3 linked regions of the Homo sapiens genome follow. The protein of the gene in region 2 purifies or fractionates together with the protein of the main gene of each other region. This does not show direct contact. Each region holds a gene or a part of one and is shown on either strand. Other genes may lie near its edges.

Evidence for each region. Proteins that work in one complex are often made in the same cells at the same time.
Region 1: the proteins of KLHL29 (region 2) and DNAJB12 purify together in Homo sapiens (affinity purification with mass spectrometry, with the first as the bait; one large-scale study listed by BioGRID). This does not show direct contact.
Region 3: the proteins of KLHL29 (region 2) and RALGAPA2 purify together in Homo sapiens (affinity purification with mass spectrometry, with the first as the bait; one large-scale study listed by BioGRID). This does not show direct contact.

What each region holds. Positions count from the first base shown.
Region 1 is NC_000010.11:72,344,920-72,348,419, reverse strand, and holds part of DNAJB12 (dnaJ homolog subfamily B member 12), read left to right. Parts: intron 1-3,292; coding exon 3,293-3,470; intron 3,471-3,500. UniProt on the Homo sapiens protein: Acts as a co-chaperone with HSPA8/Hsc70; required to promote protein folding and trafficking, prevent aggregation of client proteins, and promote unfolded proteins to endoplasmic reticulum-associated degradation (ERAD) pathway.
Region 2 is NC_000002.12:23,643,679-23,647,178, forward strand, and holds part of KLHL29 (kelch-like protein 29), read left to right. Parts: intron 1-1,375; exon of another isoform or gene 1,376-1,404; coding exon of another isoform or gene 1,405-1,426; intron 1,427-3,500.
Region 3 is NC_000020.11:20,391,838-20,394,644, forward strand, and holds part of RALGAPA2 (ral GTPase-activating protein subunit alpha-2), read right to left. Parts: exon of another isoform or gene 1,674-2,807; intron 1,417-1,673; coding exon of another isoform or gene 1,262-1,416; 3' UTR 1-1,261.

The DNA.
Region 1 (3,500 bases), on a different chromosome or scaffold from region 2:
ATCCAGATGCCTGTTTTCCCAGCTGGTCAGCTTGTCAGAGGCTTTAGGATTTTACTACCCAGGGCGCTGGGGCCCAGGCCTGACTGAGGTTTCGTGCCTGGAATAAATGGACACAGGGACCTGCTGCCAGAGACTTGGGCCCTTCCTCATTTAATCTGCAGGAACCACAGGCTTGTTTTTGCTTGCTTTTGTTTTTTTGAGATGGAGTCTTGCTCTGTTGCCCAGGCTGGAGTGCAGTGGCACAATCTCAGTTCACTGCAACCTCTGCCTCCCGGGTTCAAGCGATTCTGTGCCTCAGCCTCCCGAGTAGCTGGGATTACAGGCGCCTGCCACCACGCCGGCTAATTTTTGTATTTTTAGTAGAGACGGGGTTTCACCATGCTGGCCAGGCTGGTCTCAAACTCCTGACCTCAGGCGATCTGCCCGCCTCAGCCTCCCAGAGTGCTGGGATTACAGGTGTGAGCCACCATGCCTGGTGGGCTTGGTTGTTTTTGTTTTTGTTTTTCTGAGACAGAGTCTCATTCTATTGCCCAGGCTGGAGTGCAATGGCATGATTTCGGCTCATTGCAACCTCCGCCTCCCAGATTCAAGCCATCCTGCTGCCTCAGCCTCCCTAGTAGCTGGGATTACAAGCGCCCACCACCATGTTCGGCTAATTTTTGTATTTTAGTAGAGACGGGGTTTCACCATGTTGGCCAGGCTGGTCTTGAACTCCTGACCTTGTGATTCGCCCGCCTCGGCCTCCCAAAGTGTTGGGATTACAGGCGTGAGCCACAGCGCCCAGCCGGGCTTGGTTTTCAATAGCCATGATGCTGCCGAGGGTGATAGTTAATGTCCTGTATAGACTCCAGACATTGAAGAGGACATTTGGCATGGCCAACCACTTGCATTAGAAAAATGTGAAAAATAGCAAGTTGTGAGCACAGCAGATACTTCTTTTGGTCTCCTACCATCTGTGTCCCCCTTGGGCAAACTCATTTCCCCCATTCCTCTTTACAGCTAAGCAAAGGCCTCCAGGAAGGCTTCCTGACTGATCCCACCTGAAACAGAGGGTCCTGCTAAGCGGGGTCCCCTTTGCAGGGTACTTTTCCCAGCTTGGCACTCAACATGCCAAGTCTGTTAAACTCACTACTTTGAGATCTTAAAAATCTGAAGGGTTGACTGGGCACAGTGGCTCATGCCTGTAATCCCAGCACTTTGGGAGGCCAAGGCAGGCGGATCACTTGAGGTCAGGAGTTCGAAACCAGCCTGGCCAACATGGTGAAACCTCATCTCTATTAAAAATACAATTAGCCGGCGTGGTGGTGTGCACCTGTAATTCCAGCTACTTAGGAGGCTGAGGCGGGAGAATCGCTTGAAACCGGGAGGCAGAGGTTGCAGTGAGCTGAGATCATGCCATTGCACTCCAGCCTGGGCAACAGAGTGAGACTCCGTCTCAAAAAAGAAAAAAAAAAAAAACCAATGGTAAAAATAGGGAGTAGTGCAGTGGACTGAATATTTTACTTATTCAAAATGTGGTGCAATGCAAACATATTTGCAGATTTGAATGAGTTCAGTAGAAAAAAATGGATTCATAAGTTGGATTCATAAAAGCAAAAAGCAGAGTAAAACCAAATACACTGAAAGAAATAGCAATTAAAGTAGTATTAAATGAACTCTAGCAAGGCACGGTGGCTCATGCCTGTAATCCCAGCACTTTGGGAACCCGAGGTGGGCAGATCACTTGAGGTCAGGAGTTCGAGACCAGCCTGGCCAACATGGTGAAACCCCATCTCTACTAAAAATACAAAAATTAGGCCGGGCACGGTGGCTCACACCTGTAATCCCAGCACTTCGGGAGGCCGAGATGGGTGGATTGCTTGAGGTCAGGAGTTCAAGACCAGTCTGGCCAACGTGTTGATATCCCATCTCTACTAAAATACAAAAATTAGCTGGGCATGGTGCTGGGCGCCTGTAATCCCAGCTACTAGGGAGGCTGAGGCGGGAGAATTGCTTGAACCCAGGAGGCGGAGGTTGCAGTGAGCTAAGATCATGCCACTGCACTCCAGCCTGGGCAACAGAGCAAGACTCCGTGTCAAAAAAAAAAAAATTAGCCAGGCGTGGTGGCACGTGCCTGTAGTACCAGCTACTCAGGAGGCTGAGGCATGAGAATCACTTGAACCTGGGAGGTAGAGGTTGTAGTGAGCTGAGATCGCACCACTGCACTCCAGCCTGGGCAACAGAGTGAGACTCTATCTCAAATAAACAAACAAATAAAAAAAAATAACTCTAAATAAAGTACTATAGGGTTTATTAATAAAACCAAGTGTGCTTTTGGAAGACTATCAGAATATCAGAATTCTGCCTAAATTTATTAAGAAAAGAGATATATGTATAAGTATACTATCTGAAAAATAAAGCAATTACTACAGATTTATCCATGAATTATGTAGAATTTTATGTCAATTTTTATTAACAAAATTAATTTTGTTCATGTAAAACGAAAAAGACCTCTATCCTGCCTACTTTTTTTTTTTTTTTTTTTTTGAGACAGATCCTTGCTCTGTCGCCCAGGCTGGAGTGCAGTGGCACAATCTTGCTAATCTCCACCTCCTGGGTTCAAGCAATTCTCATGCCTCAGCCTCTCAAGTCTCTCGAGTAGCTGGGATTACAGGCGCCCACCACTATCTCCAGCTAAATGTCTTTTGGGGTTTTTTTTTTTGTATTTTTAGTAGAGATGGAGTTTCACCATGTTGGCCGGGCTGGTCACAAACTCCTGATCTCAGGTGATCCGCCCGCCTCAGCCTCCCAAAGTGCTGGGATTACAGGCGTGAGCCACTGTGCCCGGATTTTTTTTTTTTTTTTTTTTTTGAGACAGGGTCTCACTCTGTCACCCAGGCTGGACTGCAGTGGCACCATCTTGGCTCACTGCAACCTCTGCCTCCCTAGTAGCTGGAATTACAGGCGCCCGCCACCACATCTGGCTAATTTTTTAATTTTTAGTACAGACGGGATTTCACCACATTGGCCAGGCTGGTCTCAAACTCCTGACCTCAGGTGATCTGCCTGCCTCAGCCTCCCAAAATGCTGGGATTACAGGTGTGAACCACCACGTCCGGCCTGTCCTGCCTACTCTTAAGGACTATGGCTTTCAAGAGAGCAGATGACTGTCCCCCCAGCACCCACAGGCCTAATCAGGGCAGGAGCTGGTGGCTTTGCTGGGAGGGGAAGTGAGTGGGAAGCAGCGGGCCGCTCGGCGAGGCACGCAGCCTGCTTGAGCAGGAGCTCTGAATGGTTTCCTTGCCTTGCACAGCCCTGATTGAGTCCCTCAACCAGAAACCACAGACTGCCGGTGACCAACCCCCACCCACAGACACAACCCATGCCACCCACAGGAAAGCAGGTGGGACCGATGCCCCCTCGGCCAACGGTGAAGCTGGAGGAGAGAGCACCAAAGGCTACACTGCAGAACAGGTTGCAGCTGTGAAAAGGTAGATGGGTGGGCAGGGGCTGGAGCCTGG
Region 2 (3,500 bases):
GCTGGATTCCTCTGCTATAGGTTTGCCTAGCCCTTAGTGCCCCAGACAAGCCAAGTCCCTGCTCCTGCTGGATGCAGTGGGGAAGGCTGCTGGGCCACTGCCAGGTACAGGCAGTGGGGGCATAAGGGTCCATGGCAAACAGTCTGGCCCAACGGGGTGTCTACATCTCTTTTGAAAGAGGACACTAGACGGTCCCAGAAAGTATGCATCTCTGGGCACAACTTCCCAGCCTTCCCACATAAAACCCCTTGAGATGGCATTTCGGGGTGCTCTGCCTTTCGGCAGAGCAAGGAACCCCACTAGCCACTCTCCTGTCTTCTCTCCCAAGTCTCTTCCTTTGTCATTTCAAGCAATTTTCATGCCTTGTCAAGCATCCCAACAATAAAGCTCATGTCTGGATCTCTGTTGGGTTTAATTCCCAATCTGACTGAGCCCTAACTGCCTTTGTTTTGGAAATCAGCACTAGTTTTAAATGACAAAATTGTAGAAAATTACATCTAAATTCTGGTAAACTCTTGCTTTAAGATCTTTTTTAAAAAAATGACTAAATTGATTTTTTCTTTGCATTGTTTTGGTTAAGCTCTGTCTCCCTTTAAAAAAAAAAAAAGAAAGAAAGAAACTTACTCCCAGTTCAAGTTCATGAGTTACCAACTCTGACAACTGGGCAGCGGGCATCCTACTTCCAAGGCTATGCCAAAGCCCAAGGCACCGGGTGGCATATTCTGTCCCCACATAGCCCCTCTGGGCTAATGCAAGATCTTGCTGGCTTGCCACGTTCCAGGCACGCATCTAGGAAAAGGAGCTGTTTTGTGCAAAAAGGTAACTAGCTGAGAAAGGACTGGAGTCCCTAGTCTGGGGCTCAGCACCAAGCTGGGATCTGCCCCACCAAAGCTGCTGGGTGCAGGCAGCTAAACATTGTCAGCCCTGAGCCCATGAGATCAGAAAGACACAGGTGGCGGGGACAGGACCCTGCAGGACTTCTGTGCCCACTGGGTCAATGACCATTGCAGAGCTGTTCCTGTAACCTCTGTGCAAGGACCTGAGGGTGTGAACCATCCTCTGTGGTGGTCCTGAGCCAATGGAAGGGAGGGGACAAGAAATAGGGGCCCTGCTAAGATTCCCTCTACCAGGCCCCACTGGGCAGACCGAGGGCCAGGTGTGAGGGCCAGGGATGGGGTGGGCCTAGAAAGTGTCCTCAGCCCTGCCTTCTGGTGAGCCAGCGGGACCCACCAGCTCTAGCCAGTGACAACAACTGACCGGTCCATCACCCTGATTTCCAGAGGTTGCCAGCACACTGGCTCTTTCCTCGAAATTCCATGTAACTCGCTTCTCTATTTACGGCCTCATCAGCTGATGGAGCCCCTTATATTTGCAGGGAAGAAAGAGTGACGCACGCGCCTACAAATGCCTCCAAACTCAAGCCTGGGTGGGTTTTTTCTTTTTTTAATATATAAGTAATTTCTCTTTTCATTTCTAATCTTAAAAGCCTTTATTGCTGAAGCTATAATTTGTCTGTCAGATCTAATGTCAAACAACTGCATATTTTTTAAAATAAGAAACCCGAATTTTGAAACTAAATCTTTGAAACTTGCCATGTGAGAGTCGTGTTCCTGACAGGACCAGGTGGGCTTGGATCTGGGTCACTTTTAATTTTGCCCCTAGGGATTTTACATCTCTGAAGCCCAATTGATTTCACACTCCTAAATGACAGACAGCTGGCTCCAGGCAGGAACAGGAGGCTCTGCGTGATGGCGTCAACACAAGTCAGAACTCCACTTTAGAAAAAAAAAAGAACTTTCCTTTTCTCCTGTTCTCTGTTTGAAACCTTGCCCAGCATTATAATAAGATCCACCATGCAATGCCTTGAGATCTAGCTCGTTAAAGTCCCCGATATTCCCTGCTATTGTTTGACGTGACAACCTGGCCTCTCCCGGGGTTGAGTAATTATGGGGAGATTCCCCTCCATGAAGAACAGGTCTTGCCAGCCAGAGGGATGGGCCACTGGTATTTTTAGACTTCATTAGTGCCCAGATTTAAAATTTCACATTTTGTTTCTTGTAATTATCTTCTGATCGACTGAGCTCAAATTTCAGTTGGGGCCCTATTAGTCTGCCTTTCCAAAAAGGGCGTTGGGACTTTAATTTAAAACTTAACCAGTTGAAAAATAAAGGTGGCGTGGAAATGCTTTTTGATTTGCAGTAGGTCAAGCGATTGTCTCTCATCTGTGACTAGAGAAGCCAGCTTGTGTGCCATTCACTTTAATGAGTGTTATTTAAATGCATTGAGCACATATAGATTTTCTTAAGAAACTTACAAGACAAATCTTTCTTTCTCTAAGAACAATTTGGGGGTGGGAGCAAGCTGTAGGATTTTTTTTTTAGATGATGTATTGAAAGCTAATTAAAAATAGATTTCATGTGTGCAAAGTGATAAGGGAGGAAAAAAGAATTCGTTCCATTTGAATCCTGTTATGAAGTACCTAAGACATTTGTCTCGTTGTTGGATTGGAACCACCGAGCTAACACATGGGGAGAGGTGTGGCCAAGCTCAGGCCTCGGTGAGACCTGGAGTCAGTGTTACTACCCCAGGATCCCGTGAACCCAGCTGTGCGTGCCTGATGACAGAGCACAGGCTATGAATGCAGCTATTTCTACCCCTGCCTTCTTTGGCAAACAGTTTTTGGTGGCTCAGAGGATGTATGGGGACCTTTTAAAGCCCCAAGCTCCAGGCCTAGTGGTGAGCTGCAGAAAGGCTATTGTGTCTTCACCTGCGTGGCTGGGAGTGAAGAGTCAGGCTGCACCTGCTCCCACCTGCTTCTAGACCAGAAAGCAAAGCCCGTGTCAACCTGAGCAGGGAAAGGTATCTCTTCGGACTTCATATTTTGCAGGGGCCTAGGGTGAGGGGTCATGAGGATCCATCTACAGGCTTGTCCTCCCTTCTGGGAGGCCGTACTGGGAGAGAGGGATGGTTCAGCCCCTTCCTTTGGTTCTCCAGCTCCTCCCTTCCTATTCTGGCACTGGACTTCCACCTCATGGCACACCATTCATCCTCGCTGCTGCATTCATCCCTGTCTTCACAAGTAACAGTGATGAGATCTTGTGAAAATACTTTGAGGCACAGGGAATAGCTGTGTGACTGGGACAAGCCTCCTCACTTCTCTAAGCCTCTTTCCTCATCTTTAAAGTGGGGGTGACAGTACCACCCTCACAGGGCCTCAGGGAGGATTGAGTGAGATTGCGGACATGTCCGTACATAGCACTGTGCCTGCTTACCCCAAAAGCAGCTCTGGCTATTGCCTCTGGTCCAGGGTCTAGAGAGTTCAGCAGAGAAGGAGGCTAGGGAAGGGGCAGAAGGCCAGGCCCTCCCCAGCGCAGAGGAGATGGAAGAAGCCCATGCTTGTCCACAGGGCTGGCAATCCCTGGTCAAGCCATTTAACTTAGGGATGGGGACCCCTTCCCTAAAAGGGAGGTGGGATGCATCCCTTTTCTGTCAGGAGGACT
Region 3 (2,807 bases), on a different chromosome or scaffold from region 2:
CCACCCATCATAAGCCCTGAGTTAGGGGCTGCGTCTCTCGTGCTGCTGTCCCTTCCCACTGCAGGGCGTTGCTCTGTACCTGGCCGCTGTGAGAACAAAGCCTGCGCAGTGGCGATGGACTCTGGTAAGCTTCTTGGATTTACTTCCCAAGTGAAGTGCGGGGTGGAGCAAACCTCTAGCTCTGAGGCAGGTCAAGGGTCCAGGACACAGCCTGGGGCCTGCGCCAGCAGCTCTTCGCTGCTGACTGATTTCTCTGCTGCAGGACGGGCAAGGCCCACCCAGGGCGCCCCAGCAGGAGAGGGCTCACCATTGCTTCTCTTTTCATTCATTCATTCATTTTGTTTTTAAGAAAAAAAAACAACAACAACAAAAAAACAGGTCTAATAAGCCTTCCTTGGAGCCAAATGGGCAAAAATGTAAGGATTAAATCCCTCGCTTGGAATCGGCTACCAAAAGCTTTGTGTGACAAGAAACATTTCTGAGGCCTGTGTGAGGCCTCTCTGGGCAACAGACAGGAGCAGCAAAGTTGCAGCGTGAGGCTTTTGGAGGCACAAGGCCATTCGGGGGGTACCCGTCTCAGCCTAGCGCCTGAAGCCGGCATGCGCCTTTTGTGTGGATGTGGTCTGTGTTGTTTTGAGCCTTGGGACACTTCCTGTCCTGCAGGAACTTATGCAAGGACAGGACCCTGTATTTCTGGAATCTTCTGAGTGTTCTAAGATAGGGGCATCACTGTCATGACCTGAAGCGCCTCTGCGTGGTGAGGAGAGCCTCTGCTTAGTTAGCGGGCGTCAGGTACCATGTGGGAAAACACTGGACAACTGAGGTAAAACTTCTCCTGGGCAAAAGACCCCGGGGAAAGCCAATTTCCATGATGATGAAATTTTTGAGTAAACCATAAATCCTAACATAAAAGGAACTAGCAAAATCAATGCAGATCAGATTCCTCAATTAGACAATTGTTTTGCCAGCCCCTTTGTGAATCATGCTTGGGTTCATAAATGAGAAGAAACAACTTGGGGTGCAGAAGCAAGCTGCCCTCTGCCCCCTCCCTGAAAGCGCAGAATCTTTTCCTGCTGTCATCTGCCCAGAGCAGCCACACCAGTGCCCACGTGTCAGTGGGTTCATCTCTGGTTTTTGGTGACTTTTTCTTTTCTTCTTTGGAAGTCCAAGGTTTGTGAGGTTTCAGGACAAGATGATACAGCCTAGTTTGAGTCCCATCTGAGACACGGTAGTGGGATTCACCATGGGCTTCAGAAGTCCACTAATGGGAAGACCTGCTGAGGGCACTAGTACAGCAACGAAATTTCCTGGAGATTCTGGGTTTAGTGGCTCGGGGCAGAGGCAGGAGAGGGTGTTCTGTCTCCTCCTCACTCAGGGGCTCTTCGAGGTCAGCACTCAGACTGGAGGCCAGGGCCCCTGCAAAGGAAGCAGAGAACTGCTAAGTCATGGAGGCAACGGCGGCTCTACGGCCACACATTTCAGGGAGGATCTGTGGCACTCAGAAGGGAGGGAAACTCCCAGGAGAAGGGTCTGGTGACCTCCTCCCACGCTATGCCGGCAAAGATGTTTGTTGAATGAATAAACACATGAATGTCTTTCTTCTTATTCTTTGCCCTGGGCTTTTCTGCAGCATAAAAGAAGCTATGAATCTTGTGAAATTAATTCAGACTTACTGTCCAATTCATAAGTAAAGAATGAAGAGAAAAGGCATCTGGTCACAGTGAAAGGGAGGAAGAGCCACTGAAGAAGCAGTGGCTGGAGTCAATGGAAAAGCCCGTGAAACTTCAGAGGCCGCTCTGCAGATCCCTGGCGGTGTTCCTGGAATCTCCACGTGTTTACATATCGATATTCTACACAATGAGTTACAACTCGATTATTCCCCAAAGGGTCTAAGACTAGAGGTCAGTCCTAAATTGCTTGTCTGAATGAGTCCAGATGAGCATACAGCTGTTCATCACTGGAGGGAAAAGGAATAAAATTAAAACCTGCACATCTGCACCCCCCGCTTCCCCAGGGCTGCTGTCGGTGTGCTCAGAGGAATACAAGAATGCCTGCTGCAACACCAAGCCACTGTTGCGGGTGGAGCTGGGTCTCCCCTAGCACCGTTCTGCGAGCGAGAGGATCATTTCATCACCCTTCCCCTCGTAGTGTATTTTTAAACCCTGTTGTATTATGCCCCAAGTTTCCTGCATGACCTCTGCTGGGAACCAACCTCAGAAGCAGAGTTTCCACATCTTCCTCCCTGCGTGATTCACTTGCAGGGCTTTGGCCTTTGAAATTATTATTATTATTGGCATTTGAAATTAATTTAAGTCAGTTATTTTATTCACAGACGCATCTTTTTTCATTCTCTGACCTTCCCTTATTGTTTCTAGGAGGAGTTTCCAAAATCAATACTTGCAAACGTGCTTGGACCTATGGAGGCAGCCTGGCTCAGGGTGTCCTGAAATTCAGTACTTTCAGAGTCCAGGGGCTTCATGGTTGCCTCCCTTCTTCTAGGCTCAGTCAGGTCGGGCATACAGAGAAGGCTCACTATTCTCATCTTTAAAACAGGCTGCAGCCGGGCGCGGTGGGCGGATCGCTTCAGCCCAGGAGTTCCAGACCAGCCTGGGAAACACAGTGAAACCCCGTCTCTACAAAAACATTGCAAAACTTATCCAGGCATGGTGGTGCGCACCTGTAGTCCCAGCTACTTGGGAGGCTGAGGTGAGAGGATTTTGAGCCTGGGAGGTCAAGGCTGCAGTGATGGCTTCACTGCACTCCAGCTTAGGTGACAAAGTGAGACCCAGTCTCAAAAAAAAAACACC